2 linked regions of the Homo sapiens genome follow. The protein of the gene in region 1 interacts with the protein of each later gene in a pairwise test. Each region holds a gene or a part of one and is shown on either strand. Other genes may lie near its edges.

Region 1 (3,749 bases):
TTCTTGCTGGGCAACTGAGCACCTTCCTCCCAAGAGCCCAGGCCTCAGACAAAAGGAAGGCTGCTGTTGGACGGACGTGGGAGGCCTGTGTGCAGCCCTGGCCCCTGGAAAAGGATGTGCACCTCTGCAGGAGGGCCGCTCCCCAGCCACACCTGGGGTACACAGCACATGAGCGCAGCCTCCTAGGAGTGCTAGTCCTAGGACAGGAAATCCTAGTTTGCTCCGGTGATGGTCAGAGGGGTGTTGGCACACAGCAGCCTGGGGCCATGGTGAGATGCTCCTCCTGACCTGGGATTCGCTCTTCTGCTTCTGTGCTGTCACCATGTTCTTGATTTTGAGCGGCCTTATTTCACATGTATCCTAAAGATGGTTGGGTGCAGGGAGACACTGTGTGCCTTGTCCACACAGCCCGCCTGGGCAGGAGGACGACAGCATCCCCAGCGTAGCACGAGGGTGGCCCCCTTCTCAGAGCGGCCATTTCCTCCCCTCCCCCTCAGATGGCAACAGTCTGTTTGACTCCATGGCCAGCGGGATGCGCCTGGTCGTCAGCTGCATCTCCTCCTTCCTCATCCTGTCACTGCTGCTCTTCATGGTCCACCGGCTGCGCCAGCGGCGCCGGGAGCGCATCGAGTCCCTGATTGGAGCAAACTGTAAGTGCCCTCTGAGGGCCACAACCCTGGTCCCCATCCCCACCCCAGGTCACCCCATGTCTCCATGAGCTCCCCAGCCCTGGACAGAGAGGGGCAGAGGCAGGTTTGAAGGCCACATGTTGTGGGGTCTGTGTCCTCACCTGTGGGCCAGGAAAGTTCTTGCCAAGACCCTCCTTATTCCCATTGAGCCACAGGGTGGGCAGAACTCGGAGGCCTCTGAGGGTCAGAGGCCCGGATCACCCTTCCAGCTGGAGGGGTGTGGTCAGCCAGAGGCTGGGTCTGACAGAAGTGTCAGCCCAGAGGGACAGGTTGGTGTGGTGAGGGTGAGACATGCCACGGAGCACACCAGGGGTCTCATGGGGATGCCGAATGTGGCCGAGGGGTAGGCAGCGGGGCACAGGTGTGTGCACTCAGGGACGGCAGGCCCAGCCTGGGGGTGGGGGGCTCAGGAGCCAGGCAGCCTGCCCCCAGTGACTTGTCTCTGTTCCCGTTGCACACTTTTGATGGCCCAGTGCACCACTTCAACCTCGGCCGCAGGATCCCTGGCTTTGATTACGGCCCAGACGGGTTTGGCACGGGCCTCACGCCGCTGCATCTTTCTGACGACGGAGAGGGTGGGACTTTCCATTTCCACGACCCTCCACCTCCCTACACGGCATACAAGTACCCGGACATCGGCCAGCCCGACGACCCTCCGCCGCCCTACGAGGCCTCCATCCACCCGGACAGTGTGTTCTATGACCCTGCAGGTGCCTGACTCCCCAGGGAGAGGGAACACCTTGTCAAGTAACCTGGCACGTGGGGCTGAGCCCAGCACTCTTGCCCAGCTGCAGAGGCCTAGGGACCTCACTTCTTTCCGGCTTTGTCTTTGGTTTTTCCTTTAAGGCTTCTCCTGGGGCTGCCCGTGCAGAAGGGGTCCTGATCTCCCTGCCTGGCCGCCCTTGGCAATCTGTGCAGAGAGCTCTGAGAAGGCCTGGGACCCCTCCCTCCTACCTCCCTGCCTTCTGTGAGCACCTGTCATCTGGGCAGCCCTCAGGGCCCTCAGCCCAGCTCTAGAGACCTGGGGAGCCCGACAGTGGTGGTTGTGAAGACAGGGCTGGCCCAGACCCAGGAGCCAATCACTTGTCTGTAGACACATGAGCTAGAGACACCATGGTGACAGCCCCTCCTGTCGTGTCAGGAGGCAGCTCTGTGAGGTGGGAGGAAAGCGTGGCTTCTGTGCTACTGGCCCATAGTTGGAGCCTACCACCCATCTGAGAGTGGGCGCCATTCCTCAAGGCTGTGTAGCTAAGGAGTGGCAGGCCCCTGACCCCTGGCCTGTCTCTGTCTCTGTTGAGCAGTGCAGGTGTCCCATCCCATCTCCCTGTGCATTAGGCCCCCTAACACACACAAACCTGTAGTATATTTGGTAGGCAGTGCCACCCCAAAGTGGCTGGCTCCTTGCATGCCTGCCCATCTCGGCAGAATGGGCATTGTGAGGCTGGGGCTGCTGTGCCTAAAGGTCTCAGTCCTGTTCGTTTGTTTAGTCAGCTGCCACAGCTCTTGCATGATCTGGGGGTGCAGAAAAGACTTGCATTTGACCCCTGCCCTCATGACACAGATTGTCACAGTCTTCCAGGGTAGGACCAGCTTCCTGCAAGGGATGGTGGTGGGTGGCAGCAGATCCCAGACACCTGTGTGGGCCAGGCTGCAGAGCAGGGTGGGGGCTGTGAGGGGCTGGCCGGGAGGGAGGTGCATCACCGGGGCCTTGTGCTGTTAGCTTTCAGAGACAGCCTATGGTAATGACAAGCAGGCAGCCCAGGCGCAGTGGCTCACACCTGTAATCCAGCACTCTGGGAGGCTGAGGCGGGAGGAGGGGTCTCACTATGTTGCCCAGGTTGGTTCGAGACCAGCCTGTGAGACCTCCTTCTCCACAAAAAATTCAGAACTAGCCGTGCATAGTGGGCACAGCTGTAGTCCCAGTTACTGGGCAGGCTGAGAATGGAGGATCACCTGAGCCCAGAATTCAAGGCTGTCATGAGCCATGGTCACGTCACTGCACACCAGTGTGCAATCTTTTAAGATCCTGTCTCTTAAAAGAAAAAAAAAGCAAGTAATAAAGATCGGGCAAAACAAAGCGAGTCGACTGCCTACCACACAGCCTGCCTTGGATCAGAGCTTCCTGCAAACACCTGTGTGGTTTTCCAGGCCGCTCACTGCAGCCCTGTTGCCCACACTCCGGTTGCCACATTCCAGCTGCAGCCCTGAATGTTCTTCCACCCACCTGGGCCCAGTGCCTCCCTGATGACAAATGCCCCTGCCTTCTTGCTGAGCCGGGTCTTCACCTTACTGAGTCTGAGACGGTTTCCCTTTGGGCCCCTCTGTTCTAGTGACTGCTGGTCAGTGTGTCTCCCCTACCTCACACCGATGGTGGGACAGGCCCGTGTCTGCCTTTGTGAGATGGGCCCTGCACCTTGCATATACCAGGTTCCCAGCCACAGGGGGCAGTAGGTACAACAGGTGTCATGTGGGGCAGGCTCCTCCTTCAAAATCTGAGGCCCGGGGGAGCCACCCAGGTCCTGCTCACCACCCAGCTTCAGGGGGGCCTTCAGGCAGGAGGAGTGTCTCCTGGTTTTGCCTAGCTCCCCTGCATCCCCTGTGCCAGGCCCGTACCTGCCTCTGACACCCCTCTGTCTCTTCCTGCAGACGATGATGCTTTTGAGCCTGTGGAGGTCAGCCTGCCAGCCCCTGGGGATGGTGGGAGTGAAGGTGCATTACTCCGGCGCCTGGAGCAGCCTCTGCCCACTGCGGGGGCCTCTCTGGCAGACCTGGAAGACTCTGCCGACAGCAGCAGCGCCCTGCTCGTGCCCCCTGACCCTGCCCAGAGCGGGAGCACCCCAGCTGCAGAGGCACTGCCAGGGGGTGGCCGCCACAGCCGCAGCTCCCTCAATACTGTGGTGTAGACGGCCTGGCCTGTACCCCAACGGTCTGGGAGCACCTGTCTGTTGTAGAAAACACCGGTCCCTGGGGAGACTTGAAAGGCCCCTGTCCCAGCCTGGACGCCACGCACTGCCGCACGTCACTGGCGGGCTCGCGTGTGTACATAGAGACCACAGCCCG
Region 2 (3,749 bases), on another chromosome or scaffold:
CAAAGGTACTTTTTATATACCCTCATTTATGTATGAGATAATTATGCTTTTATATACTTATGATTAAATTTTAAGCAGCATACTGTAAACATGGGTAAAATTAGTTAAATTTTATATCTGTAATTAAATGTATCGGAGATGGAAATTCTTTTTCGTAACTGATGTATAGGCACCGTCCCATTTAATGAATGATTAAATTCATTAAAACAACGAAAAGTCAGTCATAAGTGTTCTGATTTTAGGAAAAGGTATAGTGATGAAGTTATAGTTCTGAGGAACAGGGAACCTTGTCTTTTAGAAATCATGTTAAGAGGCACAGTGATAGGCAATTTCACCTTAGGAGATTCTAGTTAGCTCTTGATTCTGGGCTAGACACTGCTGCCAGCTGTGTAACCTTAGGTAAATCACTTAGCCTTTCTGGGTCCCAGCGTCTGGGGCAAGTGTTAACTAAAGCCTTCCCTGGTACTAATTTTGTAGAGCTCTTCCAACTAACTGTGTTCTTTGGTTAGAAAAACATCTTCATTGTGTTGAGACTGCTATGACAGAGACACTTTTGTTGTGACATATCTCACTTGGTTTTTAAGTAAGATCAGAGGTAAGCAAACGCTACCTGGCAAGCTGCCAGAACTGAGGTGCTGGTTCCTCTCTTTCTCAATTTGTTTGATTCTCTCTGGCTAGTAGGAGCTCCATGGGCAGTGACTGAAGCATTTTGTTTGTTTTTTAAATGTATTTTCCTTGACAAATAATAATAATATATTTTTTAAGTTTTCATTTTTTTTTTTTTAATTTAGAGACAGGGTTTTGCTCTGTTGCCCAGGCTGGAGTGCAGTGGCTATTCATAGGCGCCATCATAGTGCACTATAGCCTGTAGCCTCAAGCTCCTGGTTGATCGCCTCAAGCAATACTCCCACCTCAGCCTCCTGAGTAACTGGGATTACTGACATGCACCTTCTCACCCAGCTGTATATATTTATGGTGTACAGTGTGATATTTTGATGTACGTTTACAGTTGGAGTGATTAATCAGGCTATTAACAAATTACACCTCATATAATTACCATTTTTGTGGTGTAAAAAACATTTAAAATCCATTCTAGCACTTTTGAAGTATACAATGCATTGTTATTTATTGTATCTCCATTCTGTGGATATCACCTCCCATCTGTTAGAATGGCTGTATAAAAACAATGAAAGGTAACAAGTATTGGTGAGAGTGCAGAGAAAAGGGAACGCTGTGCACATGTTAGTGGGAATGTAAATTAATACAGCTGTTATGTAAAACAGCATGGAGGACCTTCAATGAACTAAAAATAGAATTACCATATGATCCAACAATTCCACTGCTTGGTATATATTCACAGGAATTGAAATCAGTATGCTGAAGAAATATCTGCTATCCCATGTTCATTGAAGCAGTTCTCAAAATGTCTGAGATATGAAAGCAACCTAAGTGTCCATCATCAGATGAATGGGTAAAGAGAATGTAGTATCTATACACAATGGAATATTATATAGTCTTGAAAAAGGGGAAAATCCTGTCATTTTCAGTAATGTGGAGGGTATTATAGTAAATGAAGTAAGTGTAAGTCTGGCACAGAAAGATAAGTACTGCATGATCTTGCTTACATGTGCAATCTAAAGAAGTTTACTTCATAAATATAGAGATTAAAGTGATGGTTGCCAGAGTCTGGGGGAAGAGGGTGGTTGGGGAAAGTGGAGATGATGATCAAAGTGTACAAAGTTTTGGTGAGACAGGGGGAACATGCTTTAGTGATCTATCGCACAGAATGGTGACTAAAGCATTCTTGATCGCATACTCACCAATTTCCTCAGATTACCTCTACCTCCTGCATGTCCTCATCTGTTAGCACACCCCCCCATTCCTCCCCCCTCCCCACCCCGCCTTAAAGTGGTGGGAATTATTCATGGAGAAAGCTAAGACCTTTGCAGATTGTTTTTGCGTTCATTTGTCCAACAGGCTTTTATGCACAGATTCACAGATGAGTCATGGCATCTTCCTGAGCTGAAGGCTGCACCCCTCAAACCTAGCCAGATGTTTTACATGTGTGAGCTTAGTTAAGCTTGACAGGAGAACACGGGCTGGATTGATCGGTGCAGAAAATCCATGAACCTTATAAGAAACAAAACTCAGAACAAGCTGATCTGAAGTCACAGTGTCATTTAAAAAATAAATTGTGTGGTGCGAGTATCACTCAGTCATCACATAAATTCCTGTATTCTATTTTTCTTGAAGGAGTTTTTGAACTCATCTGGGTAGGAATCATGTTCCTTTTTAAAGCCCCTTCTATGTTGGTGGAAGAAGATGCACCTTCTCGTATTCATACAGGATAGTTAGGTGTCTTTCTCCTTAGAAAGATGCTTTAATCATAGCGTATGTGTGTGATAGAGCGTAATAAGGATGTGTTTCCTTTACTCTTAGTTTTTTGTAGTTTCTTAGCTAACAGTTTCTTAAAGTGTTTTCTATTAGTGGTCCTATGATGTATCTACATAGCATGTAAAGCTAAATAATAATGTTCTGCTTGGAATTGTTTGTGACATTTAGAGCCTGACACAGGATTCTAAACTTTAAGTGGGAATAGAAGAGAAATGATTTATACCTCCCAGTAAAATACCACCGAAGGGCCATACAGACAGTGGGATAGCAGCTTATGTTCTTGATCTGGCCTCCTATGGGAATGGTCTATAAAAATGTTCCCCTCTTTTGGTCATTCCCCTAAGTGACAGTTCTTCACAAGGCCCCTGAAGCCACATAGAGATGCTGCTCTTCCTCTATGATCTTGTTTTTTTTTGTTTTTTTTTTTTTATTTTAGAGGCTGTTATGGTAGCTAGTACGAGGGAGATTATACAAATTTCAAGAAATTTAGGATTTCCTATCTCTAGCTCTATTCTTTTCCAAAAGGAGACAACATTTTCTGAGTTATGTTTGATACAATATGTCTATGTTTCTATCACAGTGACTTCATGCTGTGAATATATACATCAGAGGAACATTAAACTCTAATGAAACCCTTCTAAAAGGCTGTAACCGTAACACAGTAATACAATGTTTTACTTAAAAAGTGAAATTATTTTATCTGAGTCTACCCTTTGAAGTTGAATGGTAATTTCTATTTAAGAGATGAGAAAACAGTTTCATAGAGTTTAAGTGACTTACTCTAGATTAGTAGCTTTTAATCTTGTTTGACTATTACCCATAAGAAATATAGTTAATTTCCTGACCTAGTATATATATAAATATCCCCCAGTACCACCCCACACACATATAATTAAAACAGCACTTGCTTATACTCTATGTAATGTTCTATTCTTTTTTGTTAAAAAAAATACTTGTCACTAAATTGACTTGTTAATGGGTCCTGACCCACAGTTTGAAAAACACTGCTTTAAATGCTACATTTGTGATACCAGAAGGACTGCAACTCACATCTTACTGGGTTTCTGTGAAGTTCCTTTCATGACATTGGCAAGGAGTTGATGGTGGTGGTGGTTATTGTCTTTGATAGTCAGATATGTGGGTTTATTTTAACAAAGAATTTAATTATCCTTTTTTCCTTCAGTCTAAGTCAAAGTCTGTCTTCTGTAGTATTTCTTATTAAAGATGGAACAAATATTTAAAGCCATCACATGCATTGCGTAAGTTTTCTCTTTTAGTACTTGTATGTCTTCCTACCAGGACCTTTTTGACAAGGATTACATAATGACCAATATTAGACTCTTCTGTATCATGTC

What was found.
Region 2: the proteins of DGCR2 (region 1) and DOCK4 interact in binary tests that used the Homo sapiens proteins (3 or more experiments, as listed by UniProt).

Annotation. Positions count from the first base shown.
Region 1 is NC_000022.11:19,038,708-19,042,456, reverse strand, and holds part of DGCR2 (integral membrane protein DGCR2/IDD isoform 1 precursor), read left to right. Parts: intron 1-497; coding exon 498-650; intron 651-1,162; coding exon 1,163-1,399; intron 1,400-3,335; coding exon 3,336-3,592; 3' UTR 3,593-3,749. UniProt on the Homo sapiens protein: Putative adhesion receptor, that could be involved in cell-cell or cell-matrix interactions required for normal cell differentiation and migration.
Region 2 is NC_000007.14:112,199,800-112,203,548, reverse strand, and holds part of DOCK4 (dedicator of cytokinesis protein 4), read left to right. Parts: intron 1-3,749. UniProt on the Homo sapiens protein: Functions as a guanine nucleotide exchange factor (GEF) that promotes the exchange of GDP to GTP, converting inactive GDP-bound small GTPases into their active GTP-bound form. Involved in regulation of adherens junction between cells.